Homo sapiens: one gene and its partner. The protein of the gene in region 1 interacts with the protein of each later gene in a biochemical or structural test. Each region holds a gene or a part of one and is shown on either strand. Other genes may lie near its edges.

Region 1 (3,500 bases):
AACTATATAAGTTTCTATTCTTGAGCAGCATGTATTGTTATTTTGTATGTTTTTTTTTTAATTAGTATTTATTGATCATTCTTGGGTGTTTCTCGGAGGGGGGGATTTGGCAGGGTCATAGGACAATAGTGGAGGGAAGGTCAGCAGATAAAGATGTGAACAAAGGTCTCTGGTTTTCCTAGGCAGAGGTCCCTGCGGCCTTCCGCAGTGTTTGTGTCCCTGGGTACTTGAGATTAGGGAGTGGTGATGACTCTTAACGAGCATGCTGCCTTCAAGCATCTGTTTAACAAAGCACATCTTGCACCGCCCTTAATCCATTTAACCCTTAGTGGACACAGCACATGTTTCAGAGAGCACGGGGTTGGGGGTAAGGTTATAGATTAACAGCATCCCAAGGCAGAAGAATTTTTCTTAGTACAGAACAAAATGGAGTCTCCTATGTCTACTTCTTTCTACACAGACACAGTAACAATCTGATCTCTCTTTCTTTTCCCCACATTTCCCCCTTTTCTATTCGACAAAACCGCCATCGTCATCACGGCCTGTTGTCAATGAGCTGTTGGTTGCACCTCCCAGATGGGGTGGCGGCCAGGTAGAGAGGCTCCTCACTTCCCAGACGGGGCAGCCGGGCAGAGGCGCCCCCCACCTCCCGGACGGGGCGGCTGGCCGGGTGGGAGCTGCCCCCCACCTCCCGGACGGGGCAGCTGGCCGGGTAGGGGCTGCCCCCCACCTCCCGGACTGGGCGGCTGCTGGGCGGAGACGCTCCTCACTTCCCAGACGGGGCGGCTGCCGGGCGGAGGGGCTCCTCACTTCTCAGACGGGGCAGCCGGTCGGAGACACTCCTCACCTCCCAGACAGGGTCGCGGCCGGGCAGAGGCGCTCCTCACATCCCAGACGGGGCGGCGGGGCAGAGGCGCTCCCCACATCCCAGACGATGGGCGGCCGGGCAGAGACGCTCCTCACTTCCTAGACGGGATGACGGCCAGGAAGAGGGGCTCCTCACTTCTCAGACTGGGCGGCCGGGCAGAGACGCTCGTCACTTCCTAGACGGGGTGGCGGCCGGGCAGAGGCTGCAATCTCCGCACTTTGGGAGGCCAAGGCAGGCGGCTGGGAGGTGGAGGTTGTAGCGAGCCGAGATCGCGCCACTGCACTCCAGCCTGGGCAACATTGAGCACTGAGTGAGCAAGACTCCCTCTGCAATCCTGGCACCTCGGGAGGCCGAGGCTGGCAGATCACTCGCCGTCAGGAGCTGGAGACCAGCCCGGCCAACACGGCGAAACCCCGTCTCCACCAAAAAATACAAAAACCAGTCAGGCGTGGCGGCGCGCGCCTGCAATCCCAGGCACTGGGCAGGCTGAGACAGGAGAATCAGGCAGGGAGGTTGCAGTGAGCCAAGATGGCGGCAGTACAGTCCAGCCTCGGCTCGGCATCAGAGGGAGACTGTGCAAAGGGGAGAGGGAGAGAAGAGAGGGAGAGGGAGAGCTGTATGTTGTATTTTATTTTATTTATTTATTTATTTATTTATTTATTGAGACAGGGTCTCACTCTGTTGCCCAGGCTGGAGTGCAGTGGTGTGATCTTGGCTCACAGCAACCTCCGCCTCCCAGGTTCAAGTGATTCTCCAGTCTCAGCCTCCAAAGTAGCTGGGACTACAGGTGCACACCACCATGCCTGGCTAATTTTTGTATTTTTAGTAGAGACGGGGTTTCACCATATTGGTCAGGCTGGTCTCAAACTCCTGACCTCAGTTGATCCACCCACCTTTGCCTCCCAAAGTGCTGGGATTACAGGCGTGAGCCACTGCACCCAGCCAATTTTGCATTCATTCAGCATTGTTTCTAAGATTTATCTGTATTGACGTTTATAACTTTATTGATTTTTCATTGCTCCATAGTATTTTATTATATGGCAGTGGTACCGTTTATCTTTTTCTCCTATTGATGATTTTATTTATTTTTTTTTCTCCAGTTACTGATTCTTTTGAGTGTTTCCAGTACATGGTCTTTGTATATATGTGCAAGATGTTTCCTATTCCAGATTCTAGGAATAAACTTGCATAGACTGTAGGATATACACTTCTTTGGCTTTACTTGATATTGCAGAATTCTTTTCTGGGCTGGTTTTTTCATCACTAGCTCTTTAGCCACTCTTTAGATCAATGACTTGTGGGTTTTTTATCCCTTGGAGGTGCCCGAAATCAGGTGGTGATAAGAGCAGAGCCCCAACTCTGTGCCTTGTGTGCGGATCTCTGCTGTGCTCCCAGAGTTACTGCTGCCAGACTGAACTGGAAGGGGAGGATGTAGGAGCCTGCACAGCTCACACCTACTCCTGTGGCTCTGGAGTGGGCATCTTCCTGAGGTAAGGACCTGCAGGGGCTTTTTAGCTTTGGATCTGCCTCAGTATCTGACTGTTAGGGTGTCACAGGAAACTACTATATTGCCAGGAATTTTGAGACTACTGTTCCGTGTGATTCATTCCAGAAACGTGGAGCTCCTTGTCGCCTCACATCTCACATCTGGTCCATGCCAACTCTGTGTTGGTTCTTTTATTGTTACCATTCCCACTCCTCTTCCCTCAACCATAGGTGACAGTTCTGTTCTACTTTCTCCATGTCTCCCACTAATGTGAAACTTCTCTGATTTTCTGAACAAATCCAGTCAGAATTACTCTTTCTGTTATGTCCTCATGGCTTTTGGATTTTACCTCCACTTATACATATTATCACAACTCTACATGCCAGCTTGTGATTAGTGACTACTATGTACCAGGCATTGAGGATGCAGTAGTCCACAGTGCAAAGATCTCTGCCCTTATGGATGGAGCTTGTTTTGTATGAGAGAGAGGACAAGCAAGACTGACAAGAATTTAGATAGTGATATAGGCTAAGGAGAAAAAATAAAGCAGGGAAGGGGAATATGAAATGGCAGCTATGGAGCTAAATTTGAGATTTAATTTTAGTAGATCAGGGAAGGCTTCCTAAGAACATGACTTCTGAGTAAAGACCTAAAGAAGTGGGAGAACATTCTACTCAGAACATTCTGCACAGTTCCTGGGGTAGAAATGTGCCTGTCTGCTCAAGGCAAGGAGGCGCGTGTCACTGGAGTGTTGTGCACAGGTGAGAGAATCCAGGGGCCTGCTGTGTGCTGGTGACATCTCTGGGCAAGGTGTAAGCCATTTCAGGGTTTGAAGCAGAGGCATGACATGAGTGTGGGCTCCTCTGGAGCATAGGTTGTATCCATAGCTTAGTCATCCCCCCAGTACCTTGATAATTTCTTATACGTATTAGGTCCTCAATAAATGTCTGTTTAATTGTGCTGTACTATTAATGCCAGAAAAAGGCAAATGTCTCAAAGGGATCAGGGGACACAAATTTGACTCGATTCAACCTATTTCCTAGTTTGTGCACAATTTTTTAATGGATAACTTCCTCCTAATAGTGGTTTAAATATCAGTACTATAAGACTTCATTCTATTTGGAACTGAATACAAATGTTGGTTAC
Region 2 (3,500 bases), on another chromosome or scaffold:
AGACTGGATCCCAAGTAGGCACTACTGAAAGAGAAAAGTTAGCTGAAAAGCATGGATTCTTGTCCAAGCTCTGCCATTGGTTACCTGTGTGCTAAGGAGCTGACTATATCCTACAGAATACTGACAAATTATAATACATCCTAACACACACTTACCTGAATTGATGTTAAGATAGAAGATACATCATATGTTGGACTCCATCGATTCTGAAGGATATCTAAACATATGCTACCATCAGCATACACTGCAAAGACAATACTAAAATTAGTTACACACTCTGCCATATCTAACAGTTAAGAGAAATCTTTACCAAACAGAATGCTTGGCTTAGAAGTTTTAAATATTAGGTAATAACTAAATTCTTCTGTATCACAGGATAACCTGTCTTAAAACTAAGGTCTCTTATTTTGCACCTGCTATGGTTTGAATGTTCCCTCCAAATCTCATGTTGAAATGTAATTGCTGGAGGCTGGGCACGGTGGCTCACGCCAGTCCTGAACACTTTGGGAGGCCGAGGCAGGCAGGATTGCTTGAGGTCAGGAGTCTGAGACCAGTCGGGCCAACACAGTGAAACCCCATCTCTACTAAAATTATAAAAATTAGCCGGGCATGGTGGCACATGCCTGTAATCCCAGCTACTTGGAAGGCTGAGGCAGGAGAATCGCTTGAACCCAGGAGGCAGGGGTTGCAGTGAGCTGAGATCACACCACTGCACTCCAGCCTGGATGACAGGGTAAGAACCTGTCTCAAAAAAATAAAAGTAAAAAAATTAAATAAAAAAAAATTAATTGCCATTGTAACACTGTTGAGAAGTGGGACCTTTAAGAAGTGCTTAGGTCATGAGTGCTCAGGGCAGGAGTGTACTCCAGATAAAAGGATGAGTTTGGCACCTTTTCTTATGTCTTGTGTGCTCACTTGTCATTCTGCCTTCCACCATGGGATGTCACAGCACCAAGGACCTTGCTTAGGTGCTGGCGCCATGCTCTTGGACTGCCCAGTCTCCAGAACCATGAGCCAAACAAACTACTATTATTTACAAATTTACAAATTATCAGTCCCTGCTATTCTGTTGTAGCAGAAAATGAACTAAGACAGCATGTTATGATCAGGAGGCTTTGAGTTAAATTTCTTCAACACACATCATTTAGCAATCTATTTAAATTCCGTATTTCTAAATATTCTTAAAGCTTTTAAAAAACTGCTTATTTTTGACATAGCAATTACACTCCTAGAAATTAAGGAAATAAACGTGGACATGCACAAAGATTTACTTACAGGATGTTCACTATAATACTACTTATAAGAGTAGAAGGCCAGGCGCAGTGGCTCACACCCATAATCCCAGCACTTTGGGAGGCCGAGGCGGGTGGATCATGAGGTCATGAGTTCGAGACCAGCCTGGCCAGCATGGTGAAACCCTGTCTCTACTAAAAATACAAAAATTAGCCAGGCATGGTAGTGCATGCGTGTAGTCCCAGCTACTCAGGAGGCTGAGGCAGAAGAATTGCTTGAACCCAGGAGGCAGAGGTTGCAGTGAGCTCAGATCACGCCACTGCACTCCAGCCTGGGCGACAGAGCGAGACTCTATCTTAAAAAAAAAAAAAAAAAAGTGAAAAACTAATTCTACCTTGTGGTCCATAAAAGAGGGAACTGGCTAAATAAACAACTGATACATTCATATAAGCAATAGCAACACAATCACCAGAAATGATACATATCTACTGTTTATAGAGTAAGACATCCACAGACTATTACCTTAAAAATAAGTTTTTAATTATTTATAATTTCCTATTTTGATTAAAAAGTTTTATATAAATTCATTTAAAGTATATGTAGTCAAAAAACATTTCTAAGACCGAATGTCAAAATGTAAGTAGTGGATATTTGTAATAGTAGGGTTATGGATGATCTTATTTTCTTTTCCTTTTTTTTTTTTGAGATGGAGTTTCGCTCTTGTTGCCCAGGATGGAGTGCAATGGTGCAATCTCAACTCACTGCAAGCTCCGCCTCCCAGGTTCAAGGGATTCTGCTGCCTCAGCCTCCCACGTAGTTGGGATTACAGGTGCCCACCACCACGCCCAGCTAATTTTTGCATTTTTAGTAGAGACGGGGTTTTGCCATATGTTGGCCAGGCTGGTCTCGAACTCCTGACCTCAGGTGATCCACCTGCCTCGGCCTCCCAAAGTGCTGGGATTACAAGCATGAGCCACTGTGCCCGGCCCTTTTTTTTTTTCTTTTTTTGAGATGGATTCTCAGTCTGTTGTCCAGGCTGGAGTGCAGTGGTGAGAACTCGGCTCACTGCAACCTCCACCTCCTGGGTTCAAGCAATACTCCTGCCTCAGCCTCCCGAGTAGCTGGGATCACAGGCATGTACAACCACGACCCAGCTAATTTTTGTATTTTTAGTAGAGATGGGGTTTTACCATGTTGGCCAGGCTAGTCTCGAATTCCTGACCTCAGGTGATCTGCCCACCTCGGTCTCCCAAAGTGCTGGGATTACAGGTGTGAGCCACAGCGCCCCCAGCAGATGATCCTCTTTTCTTTTTCTTTTTTTTTGAGATGGAGTCTCGCTCTGTCACCCAGGCTGGAGTGCAGTGGCGTGATCTCGGCTCACTGCAACCTCCGCCTCCTGGGTTCAAGCAATTCTCCTGCCTCAGCCTCCCAAGTAGGTGGGATTACAGGCACACATCACCATGCTTGGATAATTTTTTATATTTTTAGTAAAGACGGGGTTTCACTATGCTGGCCAGGCTAGTCTCGAAGTCCTGACCTCGTGATCCACCTGCCTCAGCCTCCCAAAGTGCTGGGACTACAGGCGTGGGCCACCGTGCCTGGCCTATCTTATTTTCTTTATCCTTCCTTGTGTTTATGATTTATTTGTGCAATGAGTATACATATTCCTTTCATTAAAAAAAAAAATCAAGTGACTAACAGGTATCAAAAGTCCTGAACATCTGGGAGGGTTCTTCCCTTTTTAGACTGATTCTGTGAAAATACAAGCAATGAACGTTAAGTATTTGCCCAATTGTGAGACTATCTGTAGAAAAAATTTCTAGAAGTGAACTGCTATGTAAAACAAAGAGTAAATTCATTTAAATGTTACAGATACCATTTCATGGAGCAAACCATAACAGAGAGTGGGGAGCAAATCACACTTAAACACTGTGATTCTTCCAGACTCTATCCTAAGCCCTTTTCCTTCTTACCCTTTACACACACACTGGGCAATCCTATTGACTCCTGTGGCCTCAGTTACCATCCATGTGCTCAGTATTCCCAATCATTGGCCTTAGCCTAGATCTATCTCTCAGCTTCAAAGCCAACTTACTGTCCATCCCACAGAAACATCAAACTTAGCTGCCCAAAGCAAAAATTAGTAACTCTGTAAAACCCATAAAAGTGTAAAACAATTTTAAAGTTCTGAGTAACTATTTCTGAGAATCCAAAAGTAAATCAGAACTCAAATATCTTATCAACTAATGAACAAAATACAGAATATC

The links. Proteins that work in one complex are often made in the same cells at the same time.
Region 2: the proteins of UBR2 (region 1) and UBE2B form a complex in vitro, tested with the Homo sapiens proteins (one study listed by BioGRID).

Annotation. Positions count from the first base shown.
Region 1 is NC_000006.12:42,686,029-42,689,528, forward strand, and holds part of UBR2 (E3 ubiquitin-protein ligase UBR2), read left to right. Parts: intron 1-2,187; coding exon 2,188-2,358; intron 2,359-2,958; coding exon of another isoform or gene 2,959-2,980; exon of another isoform or gene 2,981-3,500. UniProt on the Homo sapiens protein: E3 ubiquitin-protein ligase which is a component of the N-end rule pathway.
Region 2 is NC_000005.10:134,385,069-134,388,568, reverse strand, and holds part of UBE2B (ubiquitin-conjugating enzyme E2 B), read right to left. Parts: intron 245-3,500; coding exon 156-244; intron 1-155. UniProt on the Homo sapiens protein: E2 ubiquitin-conjugating enzyme that accepts ubiquitin from the ubiquitin-activating enzyme E1 and transfers it to a E3 ubiquitin-protein ligase. In vitro catalyzes 'Lys-11'-, as well as 'Lys-48'- and 'Lys-63'-linked polyubiquitination.